Linked DNA regions of Homo sapiens: region 2 is linked to region 1. Evidence: fine-mapped expression QTL. Tissue or cell type: blood mononuclear cells. Region 1 holds a variant in brackets; the other region holds the start of a gene. All regions are shown on one strand. Distances are between the middles of the regions.

Region 1 (8,024 bases):
AAATTTCTTGGTCCTTATATCCCCAGAATGTGACCTGGAGTCTGATGGCAGCCCGCTGCAGAGATGTGTCCACTGCCTTCTGGTCATTGACCTGCTTGGGTGGAGTGAATCATTGTAGGAGAAAAACTCAGTTCCCTCACCCTGATCAACCTGGACAGATCTCTCTTCCTTTAAAAGCTTTCTTGGACATCTAAGGGCTAGGAAAAATGTCAGGGAGCATTGGGAAGGTAAATGAAGTCAGGTTTACAAAGTCAAGTTTACTTCTTGGGAGAAAAATACAATTTCCAAATCCTCTGTTATAATTGCCATCGGCCCCCTGGAGTGGTGAGATCTCGGAATATGGCTCGGGTGCAGTGGCTCTTCACTGTGGGCCTGCAGGCTATTCTGAAAAGCTGATGAAAACCAATGACCCCTCTTCCAAGAAAAATGGCCACATACCAAACATTACACTGTACATCTGATTTCAGGGAATTGTAGATGCCAGGTTAGTAGCCTCAGGTCTAGGGTCAAAATTCAAGTCGAATCCCACAGGAAGAGGGTCTGCCTTCGGAATTCCCTTTCAGAGCATTGGGAGAACATCATGGGAGCATATTCTAGAGACAGAGGCTTAGGGTGTGGACAGGGCCATCCCTCACCCACTGTGCTGACCTTAAGCAGCACCTTGTGCAGCCCATACCTGAAGGCCACCAGCAAAGGCCTGTTGGGGAGCAGGCTTTACCCGACCTGTATAAACACCAGGCTAGGTGAAAACTGAGATACCTGGTTACTTTAGTTTTTTCCTTGGGGGAGCTCAGTATGATTCTTCCAGGAGAAGCCTGCTTTTAGACTAAAAAGAAAAAAAGTTTGATAGGTCAACCTAATGATTGGAGGTGGCCTTCCCCACTGTGAACAAACTATGGCTGCATGTGCCCTACAATGGCAGAGTTGAGTAGTTGTGATAGAGACTGTATGATCTGTAAGCCTGTAATTTTTATGTTTGCTGACCCCTGGATTACCAGATGATAGAAGAGGAAACATCTGTCTTCCTAGCAAAGTCAAGGAAGTGGCATTTAGCAGGACTCATATTGCTGCAAGCACTGCCTTGCAGTTTTAGTTTACAACTGCACTTTCAGCTTAAGAAACACCTGCCCATCCAGAGAGATCGTGTGGGGTCACATGGTGGGATCAGGGAGGCCTGAAGACAGCTCAGTGGAGGCTGCATGGAGCTTTGGTGGGAACGGCCCTGGCAGTGTCTATAGATGTTATTGCGGAAAACTGAGGGGTGGGAGTTGGAGAAGGGGGCTCCAGACTCTAGCTGTACTTGGCATTTGAACCCGGAAAGTTGGGTTTCATGTTTTGCACTCACATTATGAGTGAAATATTGGCTTATTCAAGGTTCTTTTGCTTGCAAGGCACGGAAACCCATTCAAGCAATCTTAAACCCCAGAAGGAAATCTATGATTTGGATACTAGACATTCTCACAGAGCCAAGGGCAGCAAGGCGGGGCTCAGGAGAGGCAGGCCAAGACCTGGAGAGCTGTCAGGAGCTGCTTCCTCAACTCTCTTCCATCTGGGCCTGCCAGCCCTGGCCTCTGTATCTACTCCATTCACCTCTCTCCATGGACCAGTCTCCCCTGCTCCTCAATGCCTGGGCTGCCATTGTTCATGCAATTCACAATACCTCGGCCTGGGCAATCAGAAGCTCATCTCTGAACACCATCCAAATTCCTGGGAACAAATCGGGTTGACCCAGCTTTATTCTCCCTGTCCCATCAGCCTTGGCAGAGGCGTGCATGTGCATGCGTGCCAATGTGTGTGTGCAGGGAGGTCCTTGTGGATGAAGCATGGCTGTCAGAGCCTACCTGCGTGAATGGGTGGAAGGGCAGGTCTCAGAGAATTGGGTAAAAACTGGATAAACCCTCCAGTGATATCCACCAATGTCACCCTGTTTAAGGCTTCTCTGGGCAAGAGACACACAGAGCATGGGACCGAGAGGCGAGCAGACCCTGCCAAAACTGGGAGACTGAATAGATCGCTCACCATCCTTGTCAGTTAGCCTATATGTACAAGGAAGTAAAATTATCTCTTTCTCCTGCCTTGGCAGTATTGTAAGGATACTCAATGTAGTAGCTAGGCCAGACACATAGTATCTTTAAATATAGCATGAGATGGCCAAGCACGGTGGCTCATGCCTGTAATCCCAGCACTTTGGGAGGCTGAGGCGGGTGGATCACGAGGTCAGGAGATCGAGACCATCCTGGCTAACACGATGAAGCCCCGTCTCTACTAAAAATATAAAAAATTAGCTGGGTGTGGTGGCGGGCGCCTGTAGTCCCAGCTACTCGGGAGGCTGAGGCAGGAGAATAGCGTGAACCCGGGGGGCAGAGCTTGCAGTGAGCCGAGATCACGCCACTGCACTCCAGCCTGGGTGACAGAGCGAGATAAAAAAAAAAAATAGCATGAGATATTATTACTGTTATAAAAATAACAGCTATTTCCTTATTAATGAGGCTTTGTCCTTACAGCTTGGCAAGGGTATATCGAGATTTTCAAGAACTCCTCATGAATGCACCAGAGAGCCAGCACCTTGGCCGTATTTGGACAGAGCTACACATCTTGTCCCAATTCATGGACACCCTCCGGACTCACCCGGAGAGAATTGCAGGTAAGCATGACTGCAGTGCTCTCAAGCATCATTTCCCTCACCTATGGAGAGACTGAAGATATAGGAAAGAACAGGGAGAGTTGGTGAAAAATATACTAGCGGAGGCAGGAAGGGATGGGGTCTGGAGGCGGCTTGAACATCACCTTGGTGAAGATGCCTCTTCCTCCACAGAAGCCTGGAAGGTAGGAAGTTGGGAAGGAAGGCAGGAAAGGTCTCATCCACGTTAAGTCTAGAGACAGAAAGAATGCTAAGAGAGATGGCACTATGGGAAGTATGAGGCTAGGTCAAGGGCTAGAAGCAGGGGAGACGAGTTTACAGAGTTTCGTAAAGATATAGAGCAACTCTCACAGAGTTCTAGAGCGAGAGCTAACCAGGAACATGAAGCAGCAAGGCCAACTATCATTAAGGAGCCAGGGAGGTCAGAGATCATGTATTATCATGACATAAATATGCATAATTGTACTATTTCTCCCAGTAATATTTAGCACCCAGGCCCCGAGGCAGAGCAAGTGGAGAGTGGGTGATGCAGGGCTGGGGGTGTGTATGGAGGCACCACAGAAGGTCAACAGGCAGCGGGCTGAAGGCAGGGACTGGACTACATGCATCAAGTCCAGGCTGCACGAGGAAGGATGAGAAGGCAGATGAGCACGGAAATGGACTGGGGGAAATGAAGAGGCAAGGGAATAGAAGTCTCAGTGGGTGCCATGACCCTGTTTAAGTGATTGAGAAAATGAACAAGATGAAAAGGTTAATGGCTGTGGTCAGAAAGTGAAATATGTGAATTCAGGATTTCGAAGGTAGGGTGGGTGATGACTGGCCCCCAGATGCGGCCATGGTGAAGTGGGGCAAAGGTGCAGGTGCATGGTGAGGGGAAGGAGGAAATGGGAGGTGATGATGTTGGCCCCACACGGACACCACGGTTGTGCAGGAAGATGGCAGGAGCTGGGCACCAGGGTGGGAGCCACCTGGAGTCAGGAAGAGTGAAGAGAAAGGATGAAGAGGCTCCCTCTCCTGTGTCTCTCCTCCCCAGGAGAAGAACAAGAAACAATCCGAAAGTAATAACACCAATGTGCCTTTACAAAGTGTGAGTGGGTGTTGTGTGCTGTCACGTGTGTAGTAGGCTCCTCTGTGGATGGCTAGAGGGACTGGACATGGCCACTGGATCCCACTTGCAAGAGCAGAGGAAAAGAGTGGTCGTGAGGAAGTAAAGCCCCCCAAAATCCAGGGGTTGCTGCAGCTTTGGGTGTGGAGCGTGCCCTCTGAGGAAAGGCTGCTCTGGGGGAGATTGCCCAGGAAACGGGGCTCAGAGGCCACGAAAGCAGCTGTTAGGGGCTTCTGGGAGATGTGTGCTCCTAGGATTAGGGAGTTGACTCTAAGGATGACCTTAGAGGTTAACAGGGATGAGAAAGGGGTCACCAAGGGGTCTACCAGGGGAATGGGAGAGGCTGTATTGATAGAACAGCTTCTGCTGCAGGTTCCAAACAAGAAATGTGGGAGAATGGTTGAAATCAGCCCCGGGGGCACCTTCCCGTGCATGCGTGCAGCTCCTTCAACATTCAGTCGACCTTCAGTGCCTCCTGTGAGCCAGGCACTGGGCTAGTCTCTGGGGGTGGAGAGATGAGTCAGGCAAATGCCAGCCCTCAGAGGGCTCACAGGGCAGAAGGTGAGAGATGAGTGAGCAGAAAATGACCACAGCGCGTGTGGGGCCCAGTGGAGGGAAGGAGGGGATTCAGGAGCACAGGAGAGTCAACAGGGGAAACTTCTCCGAGGAGAATCTGATCCTCCTCCCATCTGGCCACCTTCTGAAGCCCTCTCTCCCCATCCAAGTGAGAAAGGACAGGCGTATGACCAGATTGGTGTATGAAGATGCTGAATTACGTTCTCATTGTTTCAAACTAGTAAACCATAGATTTTATGTAGTAACTTCTACAAACTGCATTACAAACACTCCATTCTTTGTTGCCCTGGGTAGAAGTTTATTTTAGTGAGCCCAAGTTTGAGGAACCTTATATGGTATGAGTACAATTACCATTTTAATAGTAAGAAATCCCCCTTCCCCTGTGTACCAACCAGAAGGTGTTTTTTTCCTAATTTAAACAAACAGATGCAGACGTGGGCTGTCCAGCTCCTGGCGGGATGACATACCTCATGCATCCAGTGGGTTTGATGATGAGGCAGACATTTCACTTAAGTGCCTGATCATCAGATTGAGTCCTGCTGGGAGGAAGTGTGAAGGAAGTAATTTCAAACCACAGTT[T/C]CTCTGTGGCTTTTACAATGTGGATATGAGAACCAAAATCACTACTTCTTAACCCCAGAGCAGGACTGATTTTGAATTGGTATGCAGGCGGTTCCTTCTGCAGGCTTCGGGCTGTGAGAAGTCCCTAACAGAGCAAATCTGGGGACAAGGGCTCAGGAAAGGTTGGCCACGGCCCCCTAGGAATGGGGGCTCTGCAAGATCCCTGGCCTTAGAGGCTGTGAGAGGGAACAGGGGTCCATCCCCAAGTAAGGGACACGGTCTTTGAGGAAATCCCAGGCCAGGGCCTGAAGGGCACTGTCAGGAACACAGGCTGTTTCAGTCTGTTGAGATTCACCGGGGCGCTGCTCACTGTGAGCACGGACTCCTCAGGCCAATGTGGCAGAAGAGCCCACCTTTGAAAGCGAGCGGGTGGGGGTGGCGGGGCTGGTGCTGGTGCGTGCTTCTGCACAGCCACCTGGGAAGGTATGCCGCTGGTTGACCCAGGCAGAGGTTTTCTTTCATGGCAAACCTGCAGTACTGCATTCTCAGCAGGGAGGATTAATGGTAAAAGACCAGGCATGGAGCCCCCTTCCCTCTCCCTCGAAGCAAGCTCTGTGGTCTCTCAATCATCTTTAAAACACCTTCTTCCCGGGAGCCTCCTACATTCTCCTGGCTTCCCTCCCACCCCCACCCTCAGCTCCTGGGGCCTCAGCAGCCCCACCCCCAAGCCTCTAATCTTCCCAGGGAAGGGAACAAGAAGAACCACATTTTAAACGAAATTTATTTTTCTTTCCTCAGGCTCCCAGTTCACATTTCTCCCTCAGGAGTCTAGGGAAGCTTCTGTCTGGTATCGGCCTCCTCTTCACCTGGGCCCCCGCCCTCCTCAGGTGTACCAGAAGCCAGCACACTCCCCCTTCCCCCCCAGAGCCACAGCAGCCCTGTCTCCTGGGTGGTCTTGTGTGCCAAGCCTGGGCAACATCACTCCCAGCTTTTCTTGTTTTGCCCCTTCTCCCCAGCAAGATATTTGTATGTAAGGTCAGGTGAGTGAGTTAAAGAATAACGAAGAGATAAACAGTCAAATGGAGTCCTGACTGTCAGGTCAAGACAACAGTTATTTACTGAATGCCTCATGTCATTCAACAGACATTTATTGAGACTCTGATTGGATGTCAGTCTTTAATGCTGGGTGTCAGAGAGAGGTGACTTCAAGGGCTTGCATCTGTGCACCCAGCATTGCTAGGTACAATGAGGAGTATAATAAAAGCAGGAGCCATAGCCCCCAACTCTCAAGAGATCTCCCATGTGTGTATGTCTGCATATGCGTGCGTGTGCATGTGTGCGCATGTGTGCATGTGTGTGTGCATGTGTGTGCATGCGTGTGTGTGTGCGTGTGTTGGGGATGGTGTTGGTGGAGTGAGAGTGTACAAGGCTGTGTATGAAGGGGTAATTGGGAAAAGAACAATGGAGCTGGCACCCAGGGACAGGAGGAAAAGCAGGAGGGCTGGGTTTGGAAGACAGCCGGATTTATGTTTTTGAAGAGGGAAGACTAGAATATAAGGGAGCAGCCCTTCTCAGAGCCCTCCTCCTCCCTTCGGGCCCTGTGTCCAGCTTTCCCCAAAGTCCTTGGATCTTTCCTATGCAAAGGGGAGTGACAGTGGGCACCACTCTCAGGGAACCCATTACTGTGAGAGAAGCCACTGTGCCACTGTGTGGTCGAACTTCAAGACCGGCTTCCCCTGCCCCAGCTGCATGGACAGGCCTGTGGGGTTGGCGCAAGACCCTTCCAGAGGAAACTAGCTGCAACATAAATCCGGATATGGTGCTGTTCAGGGAAAGGCACAACCTGGGGATGAGAAGGGTGGCTGTCCAGCACACAGGGGCAGGCCTCTTGGCCACTGGGGGAGGGGAGAATTTGGAGAGGAAGAGGATGGGATGCCGTGGAATTGGGACCAGGAAAGAATGGGGACATGTGATGGTTAAAGCTAGTTAGAGAAGAACTGGGAGATAAACAGTCACCCATGCCCCTGAAGCACTCGGGGTGAAGAGATTGGCATTTTCACGCACCCCAGTGCTTTCCCTTTGTGTTGAAGTCCCTTCGTAGACATCCAGGCCCATAAGGCTCTTCTCTGGCCAGAGCCTCATGAACTATAGCACTAGCAGGGTTGAGGCCAAGCATTGGCCCTGGAAGCCAGCCGAGGAGGAGGGTGCTTGTGTGAATCTCCCAGGAGGGGTAAGAATTATATTAATTCGATCATAATAAGCATTTATTGAGTGCTGTTTTGAGGCCTGGGAGCTAAGCACTTCACATTCCTTACCCCGCATCAACAATCCTATGAGGTAGATGTGGAAAATGCAGACACGGGGACAGGCTCAATCACTTGCCCCAAGGTCACCTTAACTGTTAGGTGTTCTTTATGCCTCCTTATAAAGAAACCCTGCTTCCCACAGGTGTTGAGAGGAGCTGGAGGGAGCTTGACTAGGGCTCATCAGGCAAGCCCCGGCATGTGCCTGGCTCTCCTCTTTCTACCTGGAGCTTTTCCTGCCCTTAATGGCCCCAACTCATTTCTCTTAGTCCATGTCAGTGCCCTGAGCATCTCAGCCCAAGCTGAGATGATAGAAACACCCAGAGGGGTCCTCTACCCTGTGACAGCTGCGGTGTGGGAAGAGCACGTGTCTCCTCCAATCCTAGACCAGAGTTTCTCAGCCTCAGCATCACTGACACTTGGGGCTAGATAATCCTTTGTGTGGGGGAGGGAGGAGTGTCTTGGGCCTTGCAGGATGTTTAGCAGCATCTCTGGCCTCTACCCACCAGCACCTCCCCAGTTGTGACACCCAGAAATGTCTTTAGATCTTGCCAAATATTTCCAGGAGGATGAAATTCCCCTGTTTCAGTTCCCCAGCCCCACCTCAATGAGAAGCACTGTCCTAGACCAACCCCACAAAGCATCTGACACCCCCATCCAGCCCTGGCTAACTTTTTCCACCTTCTTACTAAATTGGGCCCAGCTGCTTCAGCAGTCAATGTGTTGGGGGCAGCCCACTGGCAAGAGCCTCACCTCTAGGGGCTCCCAGAGACCCCAAGAACAGAACCTTCCTCTGAGAGTTGAGTTACAAGTGTTTCCAATCGACTCTGGCTGTTTTCCT
Region 2 (8,133 bases), 130 kb before region 1:
TGTTTTGCTGTATACATGTGCATCTTGGTGTTCAGCAAGATAATTAAGAAATTCCCTATGCAAATTTCTGGAGCTCTTTCTTTTTCTACATCCTTAGTCTCTGGTACTCTGTCCTACAGATTCTGGCAACTCCAATCTCCTGGAACCATGATCTCTGTCTCTTCAAGTTGTCAAGGGTGCTATGGTCAAGAATGTGACTTTAGGCAGAAAGTTGGGGTAATTGTGGGGCTTACCTCATTTGTTTATGATCCCATCTCTCAGAGATGACAGCCCTGAGCCCAGTGCGGTGTGTAGTTCGGTGTCTGAAAACAATATATATTTTGTCCATTTTTCTAGTTGTTTACTACAGGGAAGAGTATGTCTGTTTTTATTTATTCCTCCATTTGATTTTATATATATATATATAAATATATATTATATATAAATTATATATCATATATAATTACATATATAAATTATATATATCATATATAATTATATATATAAGATATATATATAATTATATATAAAATTACTATTTTTTGAGACGGAGTTTTGCTCTTGTTGCCCAAGCTGGAGTGCAGTGGTGTGATCTTGGCTCACTGCAACCTCTACCTCCCAGGTTCAAGCGATTCTACTGCCTTAGCCTCCCGAGTAGCTGGGATTACATGTGCACGCCACCACGCCCGGCTAATTTTTTGTATTTTTAGTAGAAATGGGGTTTCACCATATTAGCCAAGCTGGTCTCAAACTCCTGACCTCAGGTGATCCGCCCGCCTCGGCCTCCCAACGTGCTGGGATTACAGGCGTGAGCCACCGCACCTGGCTGCATTTGATATATCTTTTAAGGATAATCTAGAGATTTTTCTTTCCATCTTTTTTCCTGCAGTTTATTTGTTGAAGAAATCACGTTTATGCTATAAAATGGCCCACAGTCCAGATTTTTCTGGGTATATACTGTGGCATAATTTAACAAGTTCTTAGGTCTTATAGTTTTTTATAAAGTGGTAATTGGATATAGAACAGGGTGTTTCACCTTGACACTATTGACCTTTTGGGCAGGATAATTCTTTCTTGGGGATGAGGGTAGTCCTATGCATGTAGGAAGTTTAGCAGTATCCCTGTCCTCTGCCCACTAGATGTCAGTAGAATCCCCCTCCCCAGTTATGACAACAAAAAATGTCTCCAGATATTGTCAAATGTTTTTAGACCCATGTTCTGCTATGAAAAGTAGGCTACCTAAACTACAGAATTGTCTTCAGGAAGATGAAGTAAAATTAACAGTACTGGTAATGTCACCACTGCAGATAGAAAGAATACTAATCTGTGCAGTCTGGTACCACAAACATTTTGAAGAGAACACATGAGGAAGATTTGGGGAATATAAAAGTTAAGGCTGCACCGAATGGCTGACTTGAACAGTGTCATAGAGGATGTGAATTTCTGTTTGAGAAGGAAAAAATACTAGAGGCAATAGTAATATAAATGGTAAAAACACAAGTATTTAAAAAAAATTATATGTTGCTTCCAGAAATGTTTTTCTGCAACTTGTTGAAAAACTTAAGCTATTGGACTGCTATGGTAGATATACTGATGGTTTTACTCTTTTTTTCTGAACACTACAATTTTATTATAGACCAAGAATTTCGGACTTGCAGAAAGGTATTATTGCATCTATTAATGTGCTTTTCATATTTAAAGTGTATTTGTGTGATAAATTACTTCAAACAAAATCAAGTCAGGGGAGATTAATAAAATAACCCTTTTAAATTAAAAGTAAACTACCATTTTTGCAAATATTTCCAAATGTCATCATCCTCTGGATGAAGGATGGCAGATAATGTATTTTTTTAAAGGTTTAAGAGGAGGATTGAGATTGAGAGACTTCTCAAAATTTCCCTTAGACAACCTTACTTATAGTTTATTTAACCTTCTAAGTAACATTCCTCGATTCCCAAATAGCCAACTATTGTGACTCTGTGTCAGATCCTATGCACAGTAGTTGGTTGTTTTGGGATGGTTTAGGGGTAGTTCTGGTTTAGGGGGTGTTGAGAATAACCCAGAGCAGCTATGAGGGACAGACTTTGCTTCCTTGAGCTCCCTGAGAGTTGTCCAACCCCACTCTCCTTGGCCTTCAGAATTCTTTCTTCATCCCCCACTGATGTCCTTCAGTTTTGAGTCATCACTGGGTGAGTGTCCATGGTGCATCATTCTCCAGTGGGGTTTGAAGGAGTCTTTGTTTTTTAGGTGTCTTCAGTACTGCTTGTCATATTAGTACTGTTAGGTTTGAGGTGTAATGGAAAAAATTTTAAAAATTAAGTCTGAAAAATAATTGTGGAAGCAGGTAATCAAGGAGCCTTGGATTCTTATGTTTGTATTTTTAAGGTAAAACCTCAGAGCCTAATTGGCTTCATTTCCCCCAGAACTGTTTGCATGTGAGAAATGACCCTCTTTCCTTTCTCTATCGGTGGGTAGTCTCTATCACCTCTGTTTGTCTCTTTTATCTTCCTTATCTCTCTCCATCTCATTTTCTTTCTCTGCTTCCCCTTATCTCTGCATATTTCTTTCTTCTTTCCCTCTTGTCTTTCTTTCTCCTTTATTGTTGTCTCTCTTTCCTTCTCACATATTTGTCTCTCCCTTTGTCTCTCTTTCCCTGCTTTTCTCTCCTCCTTGTGAGCTCCTTTCTCTTTGTCACACCCCCACCTCCATCCATACACCCTCTCTCTCCATCAGGAACTTGTTCATGATTTTGTCAGTGATGCTTCCAGTTCCATTTTAGTCAGCAACACAGTCCTCTTTATTAAGGGAAATGGTGTATAAGTGCAAAATAATATATTTTAAAATAGACTTAAGAGGGTGTTTGAGGTTGAGGGACTTCCTCAAAAATTTCCTTCCAAAAACCTTACTTATGATTGAATCGTAGTTGCACTGTTCAGCCTCCCCTTGGCCTGGGGACTCCTTTGTCTCCTCTTATTAGTTTGCTTCAGTTCAGGCATCATTGGCTTCCATGGTGAGAGTCCTTGGCGCATTTTTCTTTTTCAGCACGATTAGAAGGAATTTTGGTTTTTGAGGTTTCCTATTTGTGGCAGGACCTTGTTACTATTATTTTGGGGATTTGAGGGGAAAATCTGTGTAAGTTGAGTCCAAAAAATCCAGTATGGTGCCAAAGTAACCAAGGAGCTGAGTTTTCTTATTTATCTTTTCTAAGTAGCACCTGAGGAGCCAAATTTGTTGTATTTTCTTAGCATTGTTTTTCCTGTAAGGGTTCAAAGATATGTCTATGTAAGATGTCCCTCTTCTCTTTCTTTGTCAATGAGTTTTTCTCTTGCCCCGCTACCCTACTTTTGGTTCTGTCATGCTCACTTACTTTTCTGTTTGTTAAGTGGGTAGTCTCTCCTTTTATTTTTCTTCCTTATTTTCTCTTTTTGCCTTCACTTATTTCTGCCTTCCTTGGTTTTCTTCCCTTTTCCTGTGTCTGCACCTCATTTTCTTTCCAGTTTTCCTCAGCACATTCTCCTGTGTCTTTTTCTGTTTCTCCCGTGTGTGGTCATTTTTCTCGCAGACCCCAGCGCTACCCACAGTCTCCCTCCCTGTGTTTTTTCCTCTGTTTCTCTATGAGTTCTTTCTGAATGTTCCAGCACTGAGGTAAGTGCCATCGCTTGTTCCAGCGAGTGGTGTGATATAGGGACTATGTGCTTTCTAGCCCTGCTTGCTATAATTATTCCATCTTTCTCAGACTTTTTTTTTTCTTCTCATTATGAAGTGAGTTTGAAAGTGCAGCTAAGAAAGAAAGGACCGGGCACAGTGGCTCATGCTTGTAATCCCAGTACTTTGGGAGGCTGAGGCGGGTGGATCACCTGAGGTCGGGAGGTCGGGAATTCGAGACCAGCTTGGCCAACATAGCGAAACCCTGCCTCTACTAAAAATACTAAAATTAGCTTGGCGTGGTAATGGGTGCCTATAATCGCAGCTACTCAGGTGGCTGAGGTGGGAGAATCAATTGAGCCCGGGAGGCGGAGGTTGCAGTGAGCCGAGATCACGCCATTAGACTCGTCTGGGCGACAGAGCGAGACTCCGTCTCCAAAAAAAAAAAAAAAAAAAAAAAAAATACAGATAGGCCTAAGTGGAAACTATTACCCTCCATAGAGGGCAGAGGGGCAGAGTAGATGGCTGGTTTTGAGGTAGTTCATTCTTCATTCAGACGTGTGGCGCCCTTCCCCAGGCCCTAACCCCTGGAAGAGGGAGGAAAAAGGCGATCCACAGAAGTGTCTCATAAGAAATGTAGCTGCTCATCTGGCCATTAGCCGCATCTAGTCCTCAGGTGACTTTTCTCTGAGTCGCTCTGCCTGTCCCCTGCAAGCCAAAAGGGCAGCCGACGCAGCCCGTGATGCTGGGACAGCGTCCGGCCGCGCGCAACTGACGGTCGCGTTCTGCGCGCGAGCTAGTTGCCTCCCGTACCTGCCGCGGTCGCCGGCCCCGCCCCCGGGAGCGCGGGCCAATGGGCTGGGCTCCAGGGGGCGGGGCTGGCGGGCGGGCGGTGCGGCCGTGGCGGTAGCTGCAGGGGCGGTGGCGGCTGCAGTGGTGGTGGTGCCTGTGGCTGTGGCTGCGGCTGCGGCTGCGGCTGAGATTTGGCCGGGCGTCCGCAGGCCGTGGGGGATGGGGGCAGCGAGCTCCAGCCCTCGGCGGTGGCGGCGGCCGTAGGTGTGGGGCGGGCGTCCGCGTCCGGCACGCGAGATGGAGCGCCGTGGTGAGTGTGAGGAGGTGGCGCTTGCTCCGGCCGCGGCGGTCGTGGCTCCGGGCTGGGGTTGCCCGCGCGAGCGCCCGCGAATTGCCGTCCAGGGTCCGGGAGGCCCGCGGGGCGGCCCCGAGTGGAAGCGGTGGCAGGCTGCGCTAGGGACGGGTGTCCTCGAGCCAGGACTGGAGTCCACGGGAAGGGTCCGGCCGGGGCTAGGGGCGCGCCCGGCGAGGGAGGCGCGGACGAGCTGGGGAGGACGCCAGCGGTGGCCGGGAGCAGACGGTGACGATCGTAATTAAAGTTAGCACACAGCGCGTACAACGGGTCCGCCTGCTGTTCTGAAGCCTTTGCACATTTTAACTCTTTTAATGTTCAGAACACTCCATGATTGTTCGACTCGGTTCACACGGGGAAACCGAGGTTAAAAACCTGCCCAAGCACACAGACTAGTGGTTGGCAGCGTCAGGACCTAAACCCAGGCGCTTTTGCTCCGGAATCCGTGCTCCTGATCACTATGGGTCTGTGTTCTTGCCTGGATTCTATTCCCGCTCCCACCTGCCCTGACTGCAGCCCTCACTCCAGTTGGGCTCTCATTCCTGAGATATTTTAGGATTTCCGTGGTGCATTTTCTCCTGGTCTGTGTTTTTTGGGTTTCGTTGAGAGTTTTCCTCAGTCTCAGAGGTTTGTCCCAGTTCAATTGTGGACGTGTTTTGGGGTTTGACAGTTTTAATTAAAAAAAAAAATTTTTTGGGGGGCGGGTGAGCTGGAGTTGGACGTTTCAAGGTGGAACCCTCGTGACTGACGAGCCTCTTGTCTCTATGTTTATCTTTTTAAAACTTTCTCAGAGGGTATTGGCCCCAAATGTTTTCGGAGGGCAGGATATTACCTGCTAATGGCAGGAGCTGAGCTCTCCTTCCCTTCTCTCCATCTGTCTCTGTGACTGTATCTCTTGTCTATAGTTTATCTTTTGTCCGTCGTTACCACCGTCGGCTGTCCATTTTGGTTGCTCCATTCTTCCCTCTTTGTTTAAATTCTTGGATGAGGAACTTGCTCTTTGGCAAAGAGTAGTTTTGGCTGGTCAAAGGAGAGTACTGCCTGCCAGGAATGCTAGACATTCTGGAGGGGTGGGATGCTGGGCAGCTTCCTCTTTTTAAAGCGTGCTAGGTTCAAACTGTACAGAAATGAAGTGCATGTGTATTGCATGCCTTCCTTTAAAAATTGTTTGCATAGTATTGATAAAACTCTTTCTCACATGTCCCTATTCTGTTTTTGTGGAGAGTGCTTTTTAAAACCATAAAGATTTAATCATCGTTTTAGGATGAGCTCATCTAATCTTTTTAGCATCTCAAAGTAGATTCTTGCCAAATCTGAAATTGTGCTGAAATAGCAGATTTCTGAAATATCTGGCAATTTTTCCTCAAGAAGAAATGGTAGAATGGGAAATAGTAAGTATAGATGTTTGGGGGCAGTTTTACACTTCAATTAGAGAGCCTAAAATGAAACTACTGCCGTAATGTGCATTTGGCAGGGGGCATGCGTGGGGCAGCGGACATTTGATTGACACAGGCTCCTGCAGTCGTGGGGGATAGGAAGTTTGTGTCTACATTTCTAATGCACACAACACTTAGATTTACAACATACAATGGAAGTGGTTTTGCACGGTAATTTTCTACTTGCTAGAGAATTCTTTGAGAAGTGGATAATACATGTTTTTAATATTGTTGGTTTGAAGTTGAAAGAGATGCACCAGAATTAGTGTGTCAAAAATATTTTGCACAAGTCTATTTGCACAGTTCAAATTTCACTTGGAAGCTTTTTAGTAGGTTTCCACAGAGTCAGTTAAGTTTCTACAATTGTTTCCAGTCCTGTATTTCTTGCTCACAATCCACTTATGTATTGTAGTGAAGCCACATCTTGTTCAAAAACAATTTCCCACAATAAAGCACTGCTAGTAATAATGACTTTTCTTTATGGTTCATCTTTATGATGAACCAGGCACTCTGCTAAGTACTTTGCATGCGTCATTACCTAATTAAGTTGCCAGTTGCAGTCTGTTAGTAACTAAGTTTTATGTTACTTCCAACAAGAGAATATTCATTTTCGCGCATGAGAAAGTAGTGTATATGATCTTGGAAAGTGTGTATTGTTCCAGCTTCTCATTATCATAGTTCATTTATGAAAGCTTGGGTTAAGTTTGTTATTTTAAACGTTTTTTCAATTGTAATGTTTCCTTTTTTTACTCTGGAATATGAAAAGTAGTAATATATAACAAAATCAGCACATTAATCATTATAATGCTGGCTAGAGATAGGGTATAATCCTTTTTTATAAGAGGAAAAGAGTTCCTCTTCTCCTTGCCATGTGTTTGATGTTGTTGTTGCTGTGTTTGTTTTTTGCAGATTTTTTAAGTCTTGTCTAAAAATGTTCCAGCAGTTTTGAAACACTTTGAAAGTTTGGGTTACTATTTTACATGTAGTTACTTAAAGTAAATTATTTCTGCTAAAATAGGTAAATTGTTTTAATGTCTTTAATTTTTGTAACCATCTTTACCAGTGACAGTGACCAATTCTCTAATTTACCAAGTTTAAAAGCTGTCATAACTAAACAGAATGACGTTATTAAGTAAACTGCAAGAGTGATGTTTGGTTAGGCTAATAGGCATTTTGGTTAGTGATTTGTAAAAGAGCTGCCCAAAAAAGACACTTTGAATTTTTGTTTTGTTTTTGTTGATGGGAAGGAAGACTTAGATATAATAATAATGCTCAAAAATTGCCCTAGATTCATTTTAGAAATGATGTATGCATATAAGGATTAATGTTAGATAGGTTTGAAACTAGTTTAAATGTAGAAGTTAGATTCTCAGAAATAATTTGAGATTGACAAAAGGACAGTGAATAAACAAACTTTAAAAATTATAAAGTGTGGTCCCCAGTTTAATAATCAGGAGGAGCAATAATAGAAATCCAACTTTGATTTCAGTTTTATGTAATCTTCCCTCAGCTTCATATACTTTTCTTTTTGAAACATACCATTTTAGAGAGTTTTTTAAAAATTTATATTTTCACTTCAAAACATTGCAACAACCCAGAGTTATTTTTGTTTCTATAAAAATTAATTGAAACTTTATAAGTTTATAAGCCTATCTGCAGATAGTTCTAAGTAGTTCATTCCTCATACGCCAAGCATTGTGCTATGATCAGAGAACACATGGTTAGCAAATAGACATACATGGTCTTGATTTCCATGAGATTATACTCTAGCTAGGAAGACATGATCTATTTGAACTGTGGTATGAGCAGTGATGAAAAGTAGAGGATACTATGGAACATCTCACAGGAGATTCTACTCTGGTTTGATGGTAGTGGTTTTGCTGGGGGATGGGGATGGTCCAGGAACGTTTCTTTGAGGAGGTAAGCTTT

Evidence for each region. PIP is the estimated chance that this variant, and not a neighbour inherited with it, causes the effect.
Region 2: ARHGAP29 starts here. The variant in region 1 is fine-mapped to the expression of ARHGAP29 in blood mononuclear cells (TOPMed, PIP 0.97).

The regions. Positions count from the first base shown.
Region 1 is chr1:94,103,197-94,111,220 of GRCh38, reverse strand. ABCA4 (ATP binding cassette subfamily A member 4) reads left to right here. Exons shown (of 50, transcript NM_000350.3): 4 at 2,505-2,644. Among named protein-coding and RNA genes, the nearest start is that of ABCA4, 14 kb to the left of the region's middle. RefSeq lists enhancers at 3,717-4,216, 4,217-4,718. The variant T/C (reference allele first, on the strand shown) is at 4,902.
Region 2 is chr1:94,234,008-94,242,140 of GRCh38, reverse strand. It overlaps ARHGAP29 (Rho GTPase activating protein 29), which reads left to right and starts at 4,557. Exons shown (of 23, transcript NM_004815.4): 1 at 4,557-4,726. RefSeq lists silencers at 4,354-4,583, 4,594-4,833.